Homo sapiens: one gene and its partner. The protein of the gene in region 1 interacts with the protein of each later gene in a biochemical or structural test. Each region holds a gene or a part of one and is shown in the gene's direction. Other genes may lie near its edges.

Region 1 (7,000 bases):
TGCAGGGGCTCTCAACTGTAATCCCAGCTCTTAGAGCAGCAGAGGTGGGAGGATAGCTTGAACCCAGGAGTTTGAGACCTGCTGGGCAATATAGCGAGACCCCATTCTCCACAAAAAGGAAAAACAAAAAAAGACAAGTAAACAAAGATCCTGATAGGATGACCAGCATAAAGTAGGTGCTGAATAAATAGAGACTGTTTATCATTATTATTATTATTATTATTTGAGACGGAGTCTCACTCTGTCACCCAGGCTGGAGTGCAGTGGTACGATCTTGGCTCACTGCAACCTCAATCTCCTGGGTTGAAGCCATTCTCCTGCCTCAGCCACCTGAGTAGCTGGGATTACAGGTGCCCACCACCGTGGCTAAGTTCTGTATTTTTTAGTAGGGACGGGTTGTCATCATATTGGCCAGGCTGGTTTCAAACTCCTGACCTCAGGTGATCTGCCCGCCTTGGCCTCCCAAAGTGGTGGGATTACAGGCGCGAGCCACCACGTCTGGCCGAGGCTGTTTATTATTATTATTTGTTAATTATTTATACCTATGTTTTCTTTTAAAATTTTACAGTTTTAATTCCTTTTTTTAAATTTTTGTTTGTTTGTTTGTTTGTTTATTTTGAGACAGGATCTCACTCTGTCATCCAGGCTGGAGTGCAGTGGCACAATCTCAGCTCACTTCAGCCTCTGCCTCCCAGGCTCAAGCAATTCTCCCACTTCAGCCTCCTGAGTAGCTGGGACCACAGATGTGCACCACCACTCCCAGCTAACTTTTTGTATTCTTGGTGGAGATGGGGTTTCATCATGTTGCAGTCTGGTCTCAAACTCCTGAGCTCAAGCAATACATCCATCTTGGCTTCCCAAAGTGTTAGGATTACAGGCATAAGCCACAGTGCCTGGCCTAGTTTTAGCTCTTATGTTTAATTAAGGTCCTTTATTCATTTTAAGTTTTATTTATTTATTTATTGAGACGGAGCCTTGCTCTGTCACCAGGCTGGATTGCAATGTCATGATCTCGGCTCACCGCAACCTCCTCCTCCCGGTTTCAAGCGATTCTCCTGCCTCAGCCTCCCAAGTAGCTGGGATTACATGCTTATGCCACCATGCCTGGCTAATTTTTGTATTTTTAGTAGAGATGGGGTTTCACCATGTTGGCCAGGCTGGTCTCGAACTCCTGCCCTCGGGTGATCCACCCGCCTCGGCCTCCCAAAGTGCTGGGATTACAGGCATGAGCCACCGTGGCTGGCCTAACTTTTTTATTTTTATTTTTTGTAGAGACAGAGTCTGGCCATGTTACCCAATCTGATCTTGAACTCCTGCTGTCATCTGATCCTCCTGCCTCAGCCTCCCAAAGTGCTGGGATAAGAGGTGTGAGGCACCATCCCCGGCCAGTTTGCAGTCTAAGTATGATGTTAGCTGTGGGTCTTTCCCTTTCCCTTTCTCTTTCCCTTTTCCTTTTCCTTTCCCCTTTCCCCTTTCTTTTTTCCTTTCCTTTCCTTTCCCTTCTGCTTTCCTTTCCCTTCCGCTTTCCTTTCCTTTCCCTTCCGCTTTCCTTTCCTCCCCTCCCCTCCTCTCCTCTCCTCTTTTCTTTCCTCTTCTCTCTCCTCTTCTCTCTTCCTCTCTCCTTTCTCCTCTGATATCTGAAGACTAAGCTGTGGATGTTTCATAAAAGTTCTTTCTGGGGTGGGTGCAGTGGCTCATGCCTGTAATCCAAGCACTTTGGGAGGCTGAGGTGGGCGGATCACAAGGTCAGGAGATCGAGACCATCCTGGCCAACATGGTGAAACCCCGTCTCTACTAAAAATACAAAAACAAAATTAGCCGGGCGTGGTGGCAGGAGCCTGTAGTTCCAGCTAGTTGGTGATAGAGTGAGACTCTGACTCAAAAGAAAAAAAAAATGCTTTCTGGCTGGTTGCTCTGACTCTTTCACCCTATAATCTCAGTGCTTTGGGAGCCTATGGCAGGAGAAGTGCTTAAGGCCACGAGTTGGAGACTGCAGCAAGCTATGATTGCAGGCCACAGAGCAAGACTTTGCCTCTAAATTAAAAATAAATAGATAATAAATAAAATAAAAGCTCTTTATTAGGTTGAAGGAGTTTACTCCTATTCCTAGTTTTCTGAGTATTTTTTGTTATAAAAGGGTGTTGCATTTTGCCAAAATTTTTTTCTGTGTCTATTTTCCTATATTCTATTGTTATCGTGTATTATATTAATTGGTTTTCAGATGTTAAACCAACCAAGCTTTCCTGGGTTAATTCTTTTTTTTTTTTTTTTTTTTTTTTTGAGATGGAGTCTCGCTGTCGCCCAGGCTGGAGTGCAGTGGCGTGATCTCGGCTCACTGCAGGGTCTGCCCCCTGGGGTTCACGCCATTCTCTTGCCTCAGCCTCCCGAGTAGCTGGGACTACAGGCGCCCGCCACCTCGCCCGGCTAATTTTTTGTATTTTTAGTAGAGACGGGGTTTCACCGTGTTAGCCAGGATGGTCTCCATCTCCTGACCTCGTGATCGCCCGCCTCGGCCTCCCAAAGTGCTGGGAATACAGATGTGAGCCACCGCGCCTGGCGTCCTGGGTTAATTCTTGTTTGGTCATTTGTAATCTTTTTTATGTGTTGCTGGATTTAGTTTGCTACTGTTTTGTTGAGGATTTTTATATCTATATTCACAAGGGATATTGGTTTGTGGTTTTACTGTGATGTCTCTGTCTGGTTTTGGTATGCTGGCCTCATAGATGAGTTGACAGTGTTCCGTTCCGAATTTCTTCGAAAAGTTTGAGAATAATTGGTATTAGTTCTTTACATATTTGATAGAATTTAAAATGAAGCCAGCCGTGTGTTTCTTTTTTCTTTTTTTTGAGACAGGGTCTCACTCTTACCCACGCTGGAGTGTTACCCACTATCACGTTTCACTGCAGGCTTGACCTCCCAGGCTCAACTCCTACCTCAGCCTCCTGAGTAGCTGGGACCTCAGGCATGTGCCACCATGTGTGGCTAATTTTTTTATTTTGATAGAGATGGGGTGTCCCTATGTTGCTCAAGCTAAAGTGAGGCAATCTGGGACTGCACTTTTCTTTGTAGGGATATTTTGATTACTCATTCAGTCTTTTGTTTTGTTTTGTTTTTTTGGAGACAGAGTCTCTCTCTCTGTCACCCAGGCTGGAGTGCAGTGGCACAATATTGGCTCACTGCAGCCTCTGCCTCACAGGTTCAAACGATTCTTGTGCCTCAGCCTCCAGAGTAGCTGGGACTACAGGGGCGCGCCACCACACCTGGCTAAATTTTTTTTTGTTTTGTTTTTAGTAGAGACGGGATTTTGCCATGTTGCACAGGCTGGTCTCAATCTCCTGAAGTCAAGCAATCCGCCTGCCTTGGCCTCCCAATGTGCTAGGATTATCATTCAGTCTTTTCACTTCTTATGGGTATATTCAGATTTTCTGTTTCTTCTTGTGTTAGTTTTGGTAGTTTGTATCTTTCTAGGAGTTTGTCCATTTCACCTATGTCATCTAATACTGTCACACAATTGTTCAATTATTCTTTTTAAATCATTTTTATTTCTGTCAGATCAGTAGTAATTATCTCTCTCATTCTAATTTTAGTAATTTGAGTCTTGTCTCTTTTTTTCTTGTTCAGTCTGTCTAAGGTTTGCCAACTTGTTGATCTTTTTAACTAACTAAATTTGGATTTGTTAATTTTCTTTTTCTTTCTAGAGATAGGGTCTCACTCTCACTCTGGAGTGAGTGGTGCAACCACAGCTTAGTGCAGCCTCGACCTTCAGGCTCAAGTGATCCTCCTTCCTTGGCCTCCCAAAGTACTGGGATTACAGGTGTGAGCCATCGTGCCCAGCCCATATGTAATTTTGATAGATCTTGCTAAATTGTCCTCCCTAGACAATTATAGACAATGTGTGTATAAATTATATTCCCAATGGCAATGTATGAGAGTACCCGCTTTTTCATACCTCTTGCCAGCACAGGGTGATATGAAACTTTTGGATTTTTGCCAATCTAATAGGTAAAACATGAAATCTTAATGTGTTTTTGATTTCTGAATTTTCTTATATTGGGTTAGCTTGGCCACCTTTCATATGTTTGAGCCAGCTGTATTTCTGTTTCTTGTAAATTATCTTTTCATATCCTTTACCTATTTTTCTACTGGACTGTTTAGCGTTTTCACTGATTTATAGGAACCTAACATTTATTAGGGAAATTATTCCTTTTCCTGATAGGAGTTGCTAGTATTTTCCCTAGTCTGCCTTGCAATGAACATTTAATTACCTGCCATGTGCAATATCCCAAGTGCTGGAGTTGTACTGTTAAACAAGAGGTCTCCAGCTGCCCTCCTGGAGGTTATGTTCTAATGCAGGGAGGTGGGGAGAAAATATACAAATAAGCAAGGTAATTTCCAGCCGTGGCCCATACCCAAAAAGATATAAAACAGGATAACATTATGATAACAGGTGAGTAATGTTTATATAACAAGCTGAGCGGGAGGCCGGGTGTGGTGGCGCATGCCTGTTATCCCAGCACTTTGGGAGGCCGAGGCGGGCGGATCACAAGTTCAGGAGATCGAGACCATCCTGTCTAACATGGCGAAACCCCGTCTCTACTAAAATTACAAAAAATTAGCTGGGCATGGTGGCACGTGCCTGTAGTCCCAGCCACTCGGGAGGCTGAGGCAGGAGAATCGCTTGAACCTGGGAGGTGGAGGTTGCAGTGAGCCGAGATCGCGCCACCGCACTCCAGCCTGGGCGACAGAGCGAGACTCCATCTCAAAGAAAGAAAGCTGAGTGGGAGATGATAGTAGAGTCCTAAAGGCAGATAGTGTTGTGTAGATAGTATCTGTTATACAAAAGGCAAGGTGGAATGAGCCATTTGTGTAGTTGGGGAAGAAGTGCTAAGACCACAAGGCAGATTGAACCCAGCATTCTTGGGGGCAGTGAAAGGAGGCCAGTGGTGCTGGGTGTCATGAGCAAGGGGAGAGGGGTATGAGGTGGGGCTGGAATGGTGGCAGACGCCAGACCCTGAGCATCTAGTAGGCCATGAGGAAGAGTGCAGATTTTATGCTAAGTGTCATGGAAAACCTCAGGAAGGTAATAAGCAGGAAATTACTGTATTGCAAGTAATTTTCCAAGTCATTAAAAATTACTCGAGAACTTTTAATGACTATTTGTTATTTCACGGTTTTATATATATATGTATGTGTATGTGTGTGTTTGTGTATATAAATACATATATTAATAGATTATAATATATATTATATATTATTATATATTTAGATATAATTACTATATTATAAATATATAATATATGTTATATTGTGTATAAATATATAATTATATTTAAGACAACTTATAAAATAAATTTATATAACATGTATAATAAATACAAATTATATATATTATATATAATAAATATAAAATAAATATATAATATATATTAAATATTTGTTTATTTATTTTTTTGAGACAGGGTCTTGCTCTGTTGCCCAGGTTGGAGTACAGTGGCAGGATCACAGCCCATTGTAGCATCAGCTTATCTTGCTCAAGTGATCCTCCTCCTTCAGCCTCCTGAGTAGCTGGACTACAGGCATGCACCACCACATCTGGTTAATTGTTTTTTGTTTTTTTTCAGACAGAGTCTTGCTTTGTCGTCCAGGCTGGAGTGCAGTGGCGCAATCTTGGCTCACTGCATCCTCCACCTCCCAGGTTCAAGCAATTCTCTGCCTCAGCTTCCCGAGTAACTGGGATTACAGGCACCCGCCACCACGCCCAGCTAATTTTTGTATTTTTTAGTAGAGACAGGGTTTCACCATCTTGGCCAGGCTGGTCTTGAACTCCTGACCTCGTGATCCATTCGTCTCAGCCTCCCAAAGTGCTGGGATTACAGGCATGAGCCACCACACCTGGCCATTTTTTTTTTTTTGAAACTGGGTCTCACTCTGTCGCCCAGGCTAGTGTGCAGTGGCGCAGTCTCAGCTCACTGCAGCCTCGACCTCCTGGGCTCAAGCGATCCTCCCACCTCAGCCTCCTGAGTAGCTGAGACCACAGGGACCCACCACCACACCCTGCTGATTTTTTATTTTTTGTAGAGATAGGGTTTCACCATGTTGCCCAGACTAATTTTTAAATTCTTGGTAGAGATGGGTGCCCCCTATGTTGCCCAGGCTGGTCATGAGCTCCTGGGGTCAAGTGATCCTCCTGCCTTAGCCTTCCAAAGGGCTGAGATTACAGGTGTGAGCCACTGTGCCTGGCCATGTGGTTATAGATAAACTGCCATTTGTTAAACTCATTGGTAATGTTGTTTTTTCTCTCCTAATTTTTAATCTTGTAAAATCTTGATAAGCAGATTGATAATTCTGATTGCCTTCTTAGGCTATTTTCCTACAATTAGCATTTATGAGCAATTTTTAAACGTTTGATACATGAAATTCAACAGCCCTCTGATGCATGCTTTTATATTACAGAATGTGTGAATGACAACTACTGGTTTGGGAGGGACAAAAGCTGTGAATATTGCTTTGATGAACCACTGCTGAAAAGAACAGATAAATACCGAACATACAGCAAGAAACACTTTCGGATTTTCAGGGTAGGTAATGAATACCCATGTATCTAGGAGAGCTGGTAATTTGGTCATTGTTTTTAGATATTTTCCCACTATAAATCTCTGCTATTCAAAGTCTGAAACAAAATGTTCTCTATTTTAGGAAGTGGGTCCTAAAAACTCTTACATTGCATACATAGAAGATCACAGTGGCAATGGAACCTTTGTAAATACAGAGCTTGTAGGGAAAGGAAAACGCCGTCCTTTGAATAACAATTCTGAAATTGCACTGTCACTAAGCAGAAATAAAGGTAATATTATTATCTTATGGTTACTGGAATTTTTTTTTTCCACTCTCTCATAGGAGGAAAATTTGTCCTGTCCTTACAGAATATGGTTTAAGTGAGTAAAGATGAGTAAGTTGCTGGGCGTGGTGGCTCACACCTGTAATCCCAGCACTTTGGGAG
Region 2 (7,036 bases), on another chromosome or scaffold:
TGCGGTCTTAGACAAAGGCTTGCCTTCTCTTTAGATCTATTGGAATTAGAAGATAAAAGCACTTTGTTTTTTAGAGATGGGGTCTTACACTGTCATCCAGGCTGGAGTGCAGTGATGTGATCGCAGCTCACTGCAGCCTCAAACTCCTGGGCTTAAGCGGTCCTCCTGCTTCAGCCTCCCAAATAGCTGGGACTGCAGGCACTTGCCACCATGCCTGGCTATTTTTTTTTTTTTTTTTTGTAGAGACAGGGTCTTGCTGTGTTTCCCTATCTGGTCTCAAACTCCTGGGCTCGAGCCATCCTTCCACCTCAGCCTCCCAAAGTGCTGGAATTATAAGCATGGGCCACTTCACCTGGCCAAAAGCACATTTTTAAAATATTAATGCTTAATTAATGTTTATGAAACATTCTGTGCCCATACCATATATTGGAATCACTGGTCACAGCCATCTCCTTTGAATAAAAGCTGTTATTATGAAAGATGGAAAAATTTCAGAAAACAGCAAAATAATTATTTTTTCCCCCTGAAATTATTACATTTGATGAAGATTTTTCCCCCTTTTGTTTACACCTGCTGTATATACCTGCTTGCTTTTTTTCCCTCGAGCTTATCTTTTGTTTCACTTTTTATCTACTGAACTAGTTGGGAGGACAAAAAGGAAACTCACATTTATTGAGCACCTATTATATGTTGAGGTCAGTAATCCAGTGAGTGCAACTGGCAGATAGTTGGAGGTTGTATTACATTGCCATGGCAGTTGCATAGATGGCACTGCAGGTTAGTTAGTGCTAATTGTTGCCTACCGCTTTGAGTTTTCTTCACATTCAGCTTCTCTTGTATTTGGTTCAACTAATATTATTCATCTTTCCTTAACAGTTGGTTACAGAGAGACACATTTCCCTTATTGATTTGAGGATTAAGGTCGTAGAAATATGGTTATGTGTTTAATTTTTAAATACTGTCCTATAATACTGCAGGCCTGGTTCATACACATTTCTAATAATTCTTTTAAAACCTCATTTATTTTTATGGTTTACTTACCTTTTAAAAAATATTTTGAAACTAGTTCTTTTTATATTTGTTTTAAAAGTTACATGAGGCTGGGTGTGGTGGCTCATGCCCTGTAATCCCAGCACTTTGGGAGGCCGAGGCAGGTGGATCACTGGAGGCCAGGAGTTTGAAACCAGCTTGGCCAACATAGTGAAACACCATCTTTACTAAAAATATGAAAAAAATTAGTCGGGCATGGTTGCACACACCTGTAATCCCAGCTACCCATGAGGCTGAGGCATGAGAATTGCTTGAACCCAGAAGTGGAGGTTGCAGTGAGCCAAGATCGCGCCACTGCACTCCAGCCTGGGCAACAGAGCAAGACTGTCTCAAAAAAAAAAGTTACACGAGTTTTTGATTGATCTCATGAATATTCTTCTCAAAGAGCAAAAGCCATCCTTATATCTTTGGTGTTATTTTGAATGGAGACAGAACAGGTAAGGCCTAAATATTCTCAGTCCTTTATGTGAGCCTAGTTTTTAAAATCTAAGTAATGTTTGTTTACACTGGACATAATATTCTTACTGCTTTTCTAGTGAGGAGATTTCTAGTGAAGATGATGAGCTGGTAGAAGAGAAGAAGCAGCAACGAAGAAGGGTCCCTGCAAAGAGGAAGCTGGAGATGGAGGACTATCCCAGCTTCATGGCAAAGCGCTTTGCCGACTTTACAGTCTACAGGAACCGCACACTTCAGAAATGGCACGATAAGACCAAACTGGCTTCTGGAAAACTGGGGAAGGCAAGTGTGTGTATGCGCGCATGTATGTGTAAGATAGGTTGTGGCAACTTGAAGAAGTTTTAAGAAATTGGAACTACAGCTCATTTATATGGATGTTGTCACGATGTAATGGTAATCATTCATTTCTATAGCAAAATCTACTGAACTTCTGGCACTGGGGTTTATACGATTCAGACTTGGGATTTTAACTTTATTAGAAAGAATGTTTTATTCTTAAAATTGAGGCCTTGTAAGTGTTCAAGTGCTGAAAATCCAAATACTTTAAAGGAGTGGATTTCAAAGCAATAATTATTAAAGTATCAGAAGCTAATCTCCGTGTGTAGAAAAATGATATGACCTGCTTAAGACTAACTTTTTTTTTTTAAGAACAATTATAGCCACTCACAAACTCAGTCCTTTACAGAAAGTCCCTCCTGAAAAGATGATTTTCTATCTCTCTGCTGACACAGAAAGATAGAGAAACCAATGTAGCTTGCCTTCAGCACTGATTTTCTGCATTATCTGACACTGCTTAATGTTGTTGCAGGGTTTTGGTGCCTTTGAACGCTCAATCTTGACTCAGATCGACCATATTCTGATGGACAAAGAGAGATTACTTCGAAGGACACAGACCAAGCGCTCTGTCTATCGAGTTCTTGGCAAACCTGAGCCAGCAGCTCAGCCTGTCCCAGAGAGTTTGCCAGGGGAACCGGTAAGAACTCTGTAATGCAGAGTGATTATGGGGAATAGTTTCTATGAGGCTTATTAGCTGAAAAACTTGTAGCTATTACCTGTTTATATAAGAGGTTAGTGAGAGAAAGGAAAGCAACACTACTTTACTGGATTACTGAGAGAAACTTGAGTGTATGTGAGAGGAGAGAGTTTTTAAAAATGGGGCTTCTATTAACTCCTGTGTGTCATCTTCTCTTAATTTTGAGTTTGATGCAGGAGTCTGGTAGTAGAAGCATTCATAATCCAATTTTCAAAATTCAGTTTTAAAGCTACTTCTGTAGAAATGTCAGTATTGAAACAAGTGTGTACTTTAGGCTCAACGTTTGCCATTTAGGTACTTTAGAAAGGGTGCAGAAGTGGAATAGTCAAATTCTTTTGTTTAAAGGAAACATTTAAAATTTTTTAATTATGGAAGAAATATATACTTAATCCTTTTTTAGTTTATAGCAACTTAAAATGAAAAGCAAAATTCTCTACTCTGAAAATTTCACTCCTGAGGTGAAATTTTTTTATTTTTTTTGTCAATTGCCTGTTAACGTAACTCCTGAGGTGAAATTTTCAGTATTTAATAGTTGTAACAAGTTTACAGTTAATAATTAATAGTTGTAACAAGTTTTTGGGTCTTTTCTATTTGTGTAACTATATATGTGTGCAAATAACAAATATATATGTATAAATATGGTTGCCTTTTTTACTAAATGAGAGACATTTATGTAGTATAAATATGTAAAATATTACAACTGTATTTAAAGTCTTGCAACTTTTAAAATCTAATAAGTCCTAGATACTCTTTCCATTTCATTACCTAGAGAGCTACCTCATTTTTCCTAATGACCTCAAAGTATTCCATTGTATGGATATGCACTATCATTTATGCAAACAATGGATATTATGTTGTCTCCAGTTTCAGAAACACTGCTACAGGAAAGATTCCTGTACATGTATTATGTGTTCGTATAAATATATGGGTAGATTTCTTGAAGTGGAAGTGTTAAAGAAAATACACCAAATTCTGATAGATGTTGCCAAATTGCCTCCAAAAAGGCTGCATTAATTTCAGTCGTAGAGGTGAAAAATGGTATCTTCTAATTCTAATTTACACATATTTAATTTGAATGAGGGTAAACATATTTTCATATGATTATTTATGGGTTTTTTTGGTCAACTGCCTGTTAATGTTTTTGCCTGTTTTCATATTGGACTGTTTTGTTTTTTAATTTTAAGAACTTTTTATATCTTAAGGAAAACAGTGCTTTGACTGTTCTACATATTATTTATAGTAGCTACATTAGTTAGATAGCCTTGTTGGGATTCACTCTTTTCTTACTCATTGTTAACATAGGAGATCCTTCCTCAAGCCCCTGCTAATGCTCATCTGAAGGACTTGGATGAAGAAATCTTTGATGATGATGACTTTTACCACCAGGTGAGACTTTTACACTCTCTTGTTACAAATCATGTTTTAGCATTTTAAAGCAGCTTATAGAATTCTCTGAACAAAGAAGTTGCTTATTTTGGAAGGATAGAGTCAGACAGTGAGTTAGAACTCCCGCGTTCAAAATTGACTTACAGTGTCATTGTGGATTTGTTGCTTTTCTTCTATTTTATGTTTTCCTTTTGAAATGAAAACAGCTATAGCTACTTTGTTGTTGCTTGAGTGTAAATTAGCTGTAAAACAGTTTCAGGTTTTTTTCTCTGAGTCAAGTGGGTTCTTTCTGAGCCATTTTTGATGATGGAGGATTTGTTAAGTTATTTGGTTTCTTGTCTCATTACTATTAGAATGGGCCGTGGAGCTGGAGGGCTGGGATCCCAGAGTTCCTGAATTGCGCTACTGATCCTATTATCTGTTAAATCTTGTTCTTAATGTCTTTTTGTGCCTGTCGAAGTCAGTTAAGTATGTATTGAGAATGTCTGCAACTGTTGATTATAATAAGAGCATAGTGCTTTTGAAGACAGAGAGAATTGGTAGAAGTTGAAATATAGTCCAGTTCTCAATATGTTTTCAGACTCCCCCACTTCTTTCCCTGACATTACTCTCTGCTGGCATGCTGTTCTTTTTAATGATGCCAGAGACTGTTAAGATAGACTAAACATTTGGGCTGTTCTAGAGAACTGAAATAACTTCCTGTATTCCTGAGTCTCTTGATAAGTTATACTTTTTTTTTTTTTTTTGAGATGGAGTCTCGCTCTGTCACCCAGGCTGGAGTGCAGTGGCGCAATCTCGGCTCACTGCAAGCTCTGCCTTCTGGGTTCACGCCATTCTCCTGCCTCAGCCTCCCGAGTAGCTGGGACTACAGGCGCCCGCCACCAGGCCTGGCTAATTTTTTGTATTTTTAGTAGAGACGGGGTTTCACCGTGTTAGCCAGGAGGGTCTCAATTTCCTGACCTCGTGATCTCCCTGCCTCAGCCTCCCAAAGTGCTGGGATTACAGGCTTGAGCCACTGCACCCGGCCAGACAAATTATACTTCTTAATAGAGTGTGTGTTTGGCTGTACCCTTTCTAGCTTAGTGGAGAATAGAGGAAGCTGTTCAGCAGTGATATACCAGTTATTGTTGAGCCATTGTTTATCAAGATAATTTTTTTCTCTGTCAAATTTTTAATGTGCTAGCTTTAGCCAAGTAATTTGCGACTGCTTGTTGAGGGTTTAGCCATGACTGCTGTACTGTGTATATGGATATGAAGAAGAACTTCTTAGGAAAATTACATGTAAAGTCAATATAGAACAAGTGATTTTATATTGGGGATACCTCTGGTCTTGCCCTAAAAAGAGAAAGAGACTTTCTATTAATTTTTTTTATTCATTCTATAATGTTTGATAAAATTATTGCCATAAGTAAGTCTTAAAAGTAATGACTAGAGGGTATAGGAAAAAAAGATTGGTGTGGCTGCAGCTGTTCCCTGTCAGAGGTCCTGATTCTTTTTTCCTCTTCTCTTATTATATTCATTTGTCAGAAGAGTAAGGAACTCTATTTTGTTCTAGAGTGTCTAAGGAAGTACCTGATATGGGATATTAATGCTGTATAATTGTGTGAGATCACGGGAGACAATCAAAAATGTTCCAGTCCTCATTAATTGAAGTGTACATTGTTCGATGAAAAGTGCATCATAAATTAAATAGGCTTAATAAAATAAAGTGAAATTACTGGGGAGAAGTTGCCTCTGTTGGCAATCCTTAGTCTGAATTTTTTTTTTTTTTTTTTGCCTGGAGGTCTGTTTAAAAAGAAATAGCATTACTTGATTGGCCCTTCATCCCAATTAATAATTTTAACTTCGATAAATTCTGATTTCAGAGTTATGACTAGTCACATCTTAGCTTTTCCCCTTGCTGGTTAATTGGGGTGCTGGGGTTAATCTAAATTAAAACTTAAACTAATAGAGGTCAGCAAGGCAGCTAAAACACCTGAGTGAAACAAATGGGGCTGCCAGGCACAACTTTATCTTGGCTGTTTCCCAAGAGGGAAGTGGCAGCAAATTGGAGTTGTTTCAGCCTTCTGTAAAGGTGAATGATGGGTGACACTTGTTAATGTACAGCATCTCCGGAAGCATTCCAGATTGCTTTGCTGCTACACCAACTGCTGCCATCCATGCACAGTCAGTAGGAACTGGACCAGTTGCCAACATCTGGCAGCACAGCAAGGAATGGGTGCAAGTCTTGAAACCCTGCAGATTCTAAATATGGTGCTTAGAACTGTGCAGGTTTTAATCACTTACCACTCTTTGGCAGCGGGCTACGACAGCTTATCCTAGCCTCGTACATCACATTCCGACATCTGCTGAGCTGCAAGGCAGCTGCACATTCATTTTCTTTTCTTGCCTTTTCTCTTTGCTTCCCATTCCCCTTCTTCTTCCCACTCCCCTCACCCTTCAGTTTTCCTCCCCCTCCCAAATATGCTTCTTGGGAGAGATGATCTGTAAAGATTACTGCTTCATTGTGTGCAAGTAATTGTGGTGATGCCAGGCCCTTGACAGACACAAGGTAGCACCTGTTCTGCTGACCTGGTTAATTTCTTCTGTTGAGTGGGATTTGCCAGAGATTGGAGCTGAAGCCAATTCAGTGATAAGGCTAAAGAAAATGGCTGTATGTTTTCTGTCACTTCCCAATTAAATTGGCTTCATAAAGTGCTTTCCTTTATTTGTCAGAGTAGTAAGCCTGAGCTAAGTGTTGCATTCAGAAGTGGTTCAATATATTACAATGGGCCTGTGAGTTTTCATTTGTGTGGTTTTTTTTAACATGGTCATATGGAAGAGCTGGGTGGTGAATATAATACATTCCCCCTTTTTTAAAACCATACTTGAAGCCAGACTCTTTGGGTTCATGTTTTGTAAGGAAGAGATTATAGCCACATTGAATTTTAATGTTCCATTGTAAGGGTTTAAAGGCTTACTTGGTTAATTCAGGTGTCTTGAAGCTGTGTGAATGCCCTAACTACTGAGAATGATGTGTGGGCTCAGAACACTCCCCCTCTACACACACATACTCATTCACACTTTCATTCTTTGTTTCTTAATGGGCTTTAAGTTACCATATCTTTCAAA

The links. The genes of interacting proteins can lie anywhere in the genome.
Region 2: the proteins of CHEK2 (region 1) and AATF form a complex in vitro, tested with the Homo sapiens proteins (one study listed by BioGRID and IntAct).

The regions. Positions count from the first base shown.
Region 1 is NC_000022.11:28,724,821-28,731,820, reverse strand, and holds part of CHEK2 (serine/threonine-protein kinase Chk2), read left to right. Parts: intron 1-1,272; coding exon of another isoform or gene 1,273-1,401; intron 1,402-6,453; coding exon 6,454-6,578; intron 6,579-6,696; coding exon 6,697-6,844; intron 6,845-6,897; coding exon of another isoform or gene 6,898-6,935; intron 6,936-7,000. UniProt on the Homo sapiens protein: Serine/threonine-protein kinase which is required for checkpoint-mediated cell cycle arrest, activation of DNA repair and apoptosis in response to the presence of DNA double-strand breaks.
Region 2 is NC_000017.11:36,986,933-36,993,968, forward strand, and holds part of AATF (protein AATF), read left to right. Parts: intron 1-1,586; coding exon 1,587-1,788; intron 1,789-2,314; coding exon 2,315-2,479; intron 2,480-3,841; coding exon 3,842-3,925; intron 3,926-7,036. UniProt on the Homo sapiens protein: Part of the small subunit (SSU) processome, first precursor of the small eukaryotic ribosomal subunit.